Homo sapiens: one gene and its partner. The gene in region 1 interacts genetically with each later gene. Each region holds a gene or a part of one and is shown on either strand. Other genes may lie near its edges.

What was found.
Region 2: changes in TEX22 (region 1) and HAPSTR1 together harm fitness less than expected from each alone (positive genetic interaction), as found in Homo sapiens cells (one large-scale study listed by BioGRID).

The regions. Positions count from the first base shown.
Region 1 is NC_000014.9:105,401,538-105,405,037, forward strand, and holds part of TEX22 (testis-expressed protein 22), read left to right. Parts: intron 1-3,500.
Region 2 is NC_000016.10:9,105,144-9,108,643, forward strand, and holds part of HAPSTR1 (HUWE1-associated protein modifying stress responses 1), read left to right. Parts: exon of another isoform or gene 1-1,621; intron 1,622-3,227; coding exon of another isoform or gene 3,228-3,361; exon of another isoform or gene 3,362-3,500. UniProt on the Homo sapiens protein: Acts as a central player within a network of stress response pathways promoting cellular adaptability. The E3 ligase HUWE1 assists HAPSTR1 in controlling stress signaling and in turn, HUWE1 feeds back to promote the degradation of HAPSTR1.

The DNA of each region.
Region 1 (3,500 bases):
CACTTGGACACAGGAAGGGGAACATCACACACCGGGGACTCTTGTGGGGTGGGGGGAGGGGGGAGGGATAGCATTAGGAGATACACCTAATGCTAAATGACGAGTTAATGGGTGCAGCACACCAACATGGCACATGGATACATATGTAACAAACCTGCATGTTGTGCACATGTACCCTAGAACTTAAAAGTATAATTTAAAAAAAACCGAAGTATAGAAACCTGTAGGTTCTGGATAAGATGGGAAGAGATGGACATCTCCATAGCCTGACGGAGGGGAGCTCTCAAGAGCTTGCAGTGGCCACCAATGGAAGTATTTCAGATGCAAGCAGATGGATGCATGGTACCACTATGACGTCAGAAAAATCGCCAGGTGCGGTGGCTCATGCCTGTAATCCCAACAATTCAGGAGGCCGAGGCAGGCGGATCACCTGAGGTCGAGAGTTGGAGACCATCCTGGCAAATGGGATGAAACCCCGTCTCTATTAAAAATACAAAAACTAGCTGGGCATGGTGGTGGGTGCCTATAATCCCAGCTACTTGGGAGGCTGAGGCAGGAGAATTGCTTGAACCTGGGAGTTGGAGGATGCAGTGAGCCGAGATTCCGCCACCACACTCCAGCCTGGGCGACAGAGGGAGACTGTCTCAAAAAAGTAAATAAACAGTATTCTGGAAACCGAAGCCCTTATAGTAAATCAAGAAAATGAGATGTGTAAATATCTGAAAAGATGACAATCACTATTTGCATCTAATATGTTACCTACTTGGAAAATCCAATTTAAGAAACATGAGTACAGATAAAAGAGGGAGTTTGGATATGTGATCACCATTCACAACTTTTCAACACAGTAAAAAGCAGAAAATGGAATGGAAGCAAAGGATACTATTCAACTTAGCAACAGGAACTATGAAGTTCTTAGAAATAAACCTGTTATTGGCCGGGTGTGGTGGCTCACGCCTGTAATCCCAGCACTTTGGGAGGCTGGGGCGGGCAGATCACAAGGTCTGGAGATCAAGACCATCCTGGCTAACACGGTGAAACCCCGTCTCTACTAAAAAATACAAAAAAATTAGCCGGGCGTGGTGGCGGGCGCCTGTAGTCCCAGCTACTCGGGAGGCTGAGGCAGGAGAATGGCGTGAACCCGGGAGGCGGAGCTTGCAGTGAGACGAGATTGCGCTACTGCACTCCAGCCTGGGCGACAGAGCGAGACTCCGTCTCAAAAAAAAAAAAAAAAAAAGAGAAACCTGTTGTTCAATTCCTTCATGAAGAACACTTTACAATGTTACTGAATAGCATGTAGAGCTCCTGATGGAGATGGTTATCATATTGGATGGGCAGATTTCATATGTGTGTTTTTGAGACAGGGTCTTGCTCTGTCACCAGGCTGGAGTACAGTGGTATGATCACAGTGTTACTGGAAAAGGGATCTCCATCTGGACCCCAAGAGAGGGTTTTTGGATCTCATGCAGGAAGGAGTTTGAGGCGAGCTGCAGAGTGCAGTGAGAAGAGATCATTTATTGAAAGCCGCTCCACTGCAGAGCAGGGCATCCTCAACAAGCAAGCAGAGGAACAGACCTACTTTGTTTTTAGTTTTTCTTATATCGAGGTCTTATCTATGTAAAGACCAAGCTGTGCCTACGTGTGGGTGGGCTGACAGCATAACAATTTATTATTCTATTGATTAAAAGGAAACTATTTTACATTTTAGTGTGCAAGTACATTAAAGCATCACTATAATTATCTTGAAAGCATATATTATTGTGGGTGTTGGGACATCTGAACTTCCTTTTCTATGAGTTTGTCCTTGTAGGCATTACCAAGCTGCTTCCTTAGCTGTAAACATCTTAGGTCCGTGGTTGTGACCTGTAAGGAATGTGCTCTATTAGTCTCAAGGTGGAGTTGAACATAAAATGATGTTATCCTGGCTCTCCTAGACTCCTGCTTCTCTAATCACAGCTCACTACAGCCTGGACCTCCTGGACTCCAGCTATCCTCCCACCTCAGCCTCCCAAGTAGCTGGGACCACAGTGGCATGCCACCATGCCTAGCTAATTTTAAAAAAATTTTTGCAGAGATGGGGTCTTACTGTGTTGCCTGGTGTGGTCTTGAACTGGGCTCATGTGATCCTCCAGCTTTGGGGTCCCAAAGTGTTAGGATTATAGGCATGAGCCATTGCGCCCAGCCAGATTTAACGTTTTAAACATGCCAAGCTTCCCAAAAACAATTCAGTGTTTTTTAAAAAAACAGACTTCATGAATCTTGAAAATTTCATTTTAAATGTACATAGTGATTCTGGAAATGTATTACTAGTTTACTTTTTAAAAAAAATTACAGACAGGGTCTCACTATGTTACCTAGGCTGGTCTCTAACTCCTGGCCTTCCTAAGAGCTGGGATCACAGGCATGAGCCACCATACCCAGCCTTTGGCAATGTATTGGTTATCCATTGCTGCATGACAAATTTCCCCAGAGCTTAGCAACTTAAAACAGTAAGTATTTTTATCTTAGTTTCCGTAGGTCAGAAATTTGGGAGCTGCTTAGCTGGTGGCTTTGGTTTGAGATCTCTCAGGAGCTTATAGTTGAGATAGCAGTCAACACTTCAGTCATCTCAAAGCTTGAGGAAGGCTGGAGACTGCTTCCACGGCAGCTCACTCACATGACTGGCGAGTCCATGATAGGGGCTGGCAGGAGGCTCAGCTCCTTACCACGTGGATCTCCCCATAGGACAGCTTCAGTATCCTCAGTATGGGGGCTGGCTTCCCCCAGAGTGAGTGAGTGGAGAGAGTGAGCTGAAAGCTGCAATGACTTCCATGACTTAACCTTGGAAGTCACACTCCTCTCTTTCTACAGTATCCGTTTTGGATACACTGGTCATCCTATTTAGTGTGAGAGGGGACGACACAGGGGCATGGATACCAGGAGGTGAGGATCATTGGATGCCATCTTGGAGGACAGCTCTCACAGGCAGTCATTTAGTCTATACGCTTTAAGAAATTATGTACTGAGAAGCATAATAGTGAAATTGTAGAATGCCAGCGACAAAAACCTCAGAAGCAATTTGAGTGGGAAGACAGAACCTTCAAAGCAGCCACGGGAGCTCGTCACAGTAGAGCAGTAGCATGCCTGTGCTCAGGGGAAGCCATGCTCAGCCTGGAATAGCAGGCCCAGCAAAAATGGATTATACAAAGGGCTAAGTAAAGTTTTTAAATGATAAAAAAGAGAATTTGCCCCCAGCACACTCTCACCTCAGTTCTGAAGAAATGATCTCAAAGCATCATGAAAGTGATGAAAGGTCTGAAATGGATAAAGCATGAGAGGAAGTAGGAAGTGTCTGAGTAAACTGAAACTGACAGTCACTGGATGTCACTCATGCACAGAAAAGCAAGGATACAATCAATATATGTACCTGCAATGGCATAAATGTCAAGATGGTGCCTGTGAGTGGAACTAAAGTGTTCTCAGTTCCTCTGAGAAGAGGAGGGGGGTGGGCCATGGTGGCT
Region 2 (3,500 bases), on another chromosome or scaffold:
TTATTGTTTTCCTGAACTTTGGGAGTTTTAAGCAATGATACAGTTGAAGGGACTGTTTATAATTTTCACATGTTTAAGTTGTGAGGCTTTAAAACTTAAATATAAGGCTTTGTCTAGGAAGAAAATGATCTTTACCTTCAATAAATTTATAATGTAGCACTAATCCAGTATAGATTGGAGACTGAATGCATTCTTACTCTTAGGGTTCATACCTCTAATTCATGTGGTTAAGACAGTGTTGTGGTGAAGTAATAGGGCCCCTTGAAAGAATCTACAGAAACATAAATTATACTGAGTTGTGCTGTACTGGTTTGTGAGAACATCAGTGTATTAAGGAGAATGGTAGTTTAATTTGAATATTTAAAGAAAGTAATTTGAATGGTTCTAGTACTAGGGCCATTATTAACTAGTAACATAGATTAGTGACTTCAACTGGGTGTCCTTATTATCTGATTTGTCTGAAGTGAAAACTGTTAAGGTGCTCTTTTAAAATGTATTTGGAAACACCATAGTTAGGGTAAATACAATGTCACAATTCACTCTTGCATATTATTTGCTTAGCCAAATTTATGAATTCTAAGTTAGGCCAAATTGAAGGTTTTGGAGTTTTACATTGTGGGTGAGTCTAAATTCATGCGTTTGGCAAGCACAAGGACATGGGAAAAGAATCTGGTATTTTGAGGCAGGCTTGAGTTTATAATGAAAGCAAACTCAGTTCCTCTTCATGTCCTATGTATTTAAGAGAGGACAGTTTTCCCTCAGTTTTTTTCCCCTTCCTTACCCCTACCCCCATCAAATACAGCCCAACCAAATAACTGTGTTCTTAATTTAAAGGAAAATGGCAGACTTGACACCTGCTGAATATTTCGTGTAGACAGAGTATGACAATGAATGAGATCCCCAGTCATTGCCCTTGTAAGCCTGGGAACCCAGTTTAGTGGGAGAGACTAATGTAAACAGCTTTAATCAAAAGTATATCAATTGGCCGGGTGCTGTGGCTCACACCTATAATGCCGGCACTTTGGGAGGCCAAGGTGGGTGGATCACTTGAGGTCAGGAGTTTGAGACCACCCTGGCCAACATGGTGAAACCCTCTCCCTATTTAAAGAAAAAAAAGTAAGGCATATCAATTTATGGTTATCAAATAGGTTTTTTTTTTTTTTTTTGAGACTGAGTGTCGCTCTATAGCCCAGGCTGGAGTGTAGTGCTCACTGCGACTTCCGCCTCCTGGGTTCAAATGATTCTCGTGCCTCAGTCTCCCGAGTAGCTGGGATTGTAGGCGCCTGCCACCACGCCCAGCTAATTTTTGTATTTGTAGTAGAGATGGGGTTTCATCATGTTGGCGAAGCTGGTCTTGAACACCTGACCTCAAGTGATCTGCCTTAGCCTCACTGCTTGCCCCTAAGTGGTGGGATTGCAGGTGTGAGCCACTGTGCTGGCCTCAAATAGTTTTTATCAAAGCTACTTCAATTAGTGGTTAGCAAGGCTTAAAGACTAATTCAGTGCTTTATTTTGACACTTGTTCGCAACATGTTGCTTTTTTTCCTGTGTCCTATGGGACCTAGTCATCTGTATGTTAGATTCACAGAGGAATTAAAGAGATAAACATGCATGTGCTAAATTGATTTCTGTCTTGCTTTGTTATCCTATAATAATGTTATAAAATAACATTATTATAAATTTCCCAAGAGTTGAATTAATACCAACAACTGGTAACTCGTTTTTATGTAAACAGCATACTTGAGACCAGAAATCTTCTGGATCACTTTGTGGATCTCTGCCTGCCATTCTCATTGGTCCTCTGTTCATCCCTTTTCTAGAGCTTCTCCTTACCTTGGCTTCTCTTCTGCCACATTGGCCTGCCTGACCTGTCCTCAGGCCCTGTCACTGCCCTAGATTACGTTTCCCATGTCTTCACTTCCAAATCTGGACCTCTCGTTTAGACCTTCTCTCCTGACTGCCAGATGGCATGTCCCACTGTCCTCCGGTGTACATCTCCAAATTGTCCCACAGGCATTTATCTCAGATGAAGTTTCAGGTTGGACTCATTCTTCTGCCCCAACAGCAGAATGACTCATTGAGCCATTGAGCCATTCAGCACATTCTCTATATGGCAGATTCGGTGCTGTCTCTGGAAATACATAAACATAGAGCGATTCCTTTTTCTGTTGAGGCAAAATATGGATTTGGTTAATTTCTATTCACGTCATGAATGTGGTATGTGGAAGGTCTTCTGAGAGCAGAAAGGGATGTTTCACAGCACAGCCCGGCTGTGTGGTGCTCAGGGCAGGCCCTCTGGAGGAGGTGAGCCTGGGCTCTTGGCCTAATGTTTCAGCTCTCACTTTCCAGTCCTGAGCTGTTGTTGCCAGTCCATCTTTCATGAGACCATTGGAGTGATCTTTCTGGTCTTGTCACTTCATGGTTTAAAGTTTCCCTGGGCCTACACAGTGAAGTCCAAATTCAGCATGGTATTACAAGACCCTTATGATCCAGTCTTAACCATTGGTTAGGTATCCTACCCATACTGTTTATCTCTTGAATACCTCTATGCTCTTTGACAAGTCCAGCCCCTACGTGTTCATACCTCACTTCTGTGACACAGCCTTGCTTCAGGGCTCCCAATCTCTGTAGCCTCCCTGAACTGTGCATTTGCTCTGCTGCTTGATTTGTTTCTGTGACTGTTCCATTCTCCTCGGGACACATAGCAGGGACCTTGTCTTGGTCCTTTTTTTTTTGGCTTTAACAGAACATAGCAAAGAACCTGACATAGGTGTAGTCTGAGTTTACCACTGGGGTTATCACAGAGGTCTGCTAAGTGAATACAACACAGTGGGGACCCAGAACCTCTAGAAAGGGTTGAGGATTACAATCCCCAGATAGCTACAATCAGGGAATAATGTAACCTGTTTGCCTAGGGTGCTACATGGTAATCTTGAATTAGAACAACTGAGACTTCCATGGGACCTTAGGGTGATAACCATTAAACCTACTCTTTCAGTGTTTACTTTGTAAAAGCATCACACTAAGGAGGTTGTCATTTAATCCTCACACCTACCCTGGGTTATTAACACTGTTGATGAAGAAAGCCTTACTTGGCTAAGATATGGAGCAGGTTAGTAAGTGGTAGAATAGATACTCCAGTCCTGTCTCCAAAATGCAAATTTTTTTTTAATTAAAAAAATTTCTAATTTTCAATATATTTATTTTTGATTTTTTATTTTCTGTAGAGTTGGAGTTTCGCCATGTTGTCCAGGCTGGTCTCGAACTCATGGGTGCAAGCCATACCCCAACCTCGACCTTCCGAAGTGTTGGGAATACTGGCATGAGCCATGATGCCTGGCCTCAAAATGCATACCCTTAACCACTATGCTCTCACATTTTTAGATGTGGGATTTCTGTCTACGACGTCGCCCCCACTAAGACCTAGGGCTTAGGTGTCGAGGTGGGAAAGATCTTGAGGCTTTTCTTCTCAAAATTAATCAGAAACGATGTGAATTTTA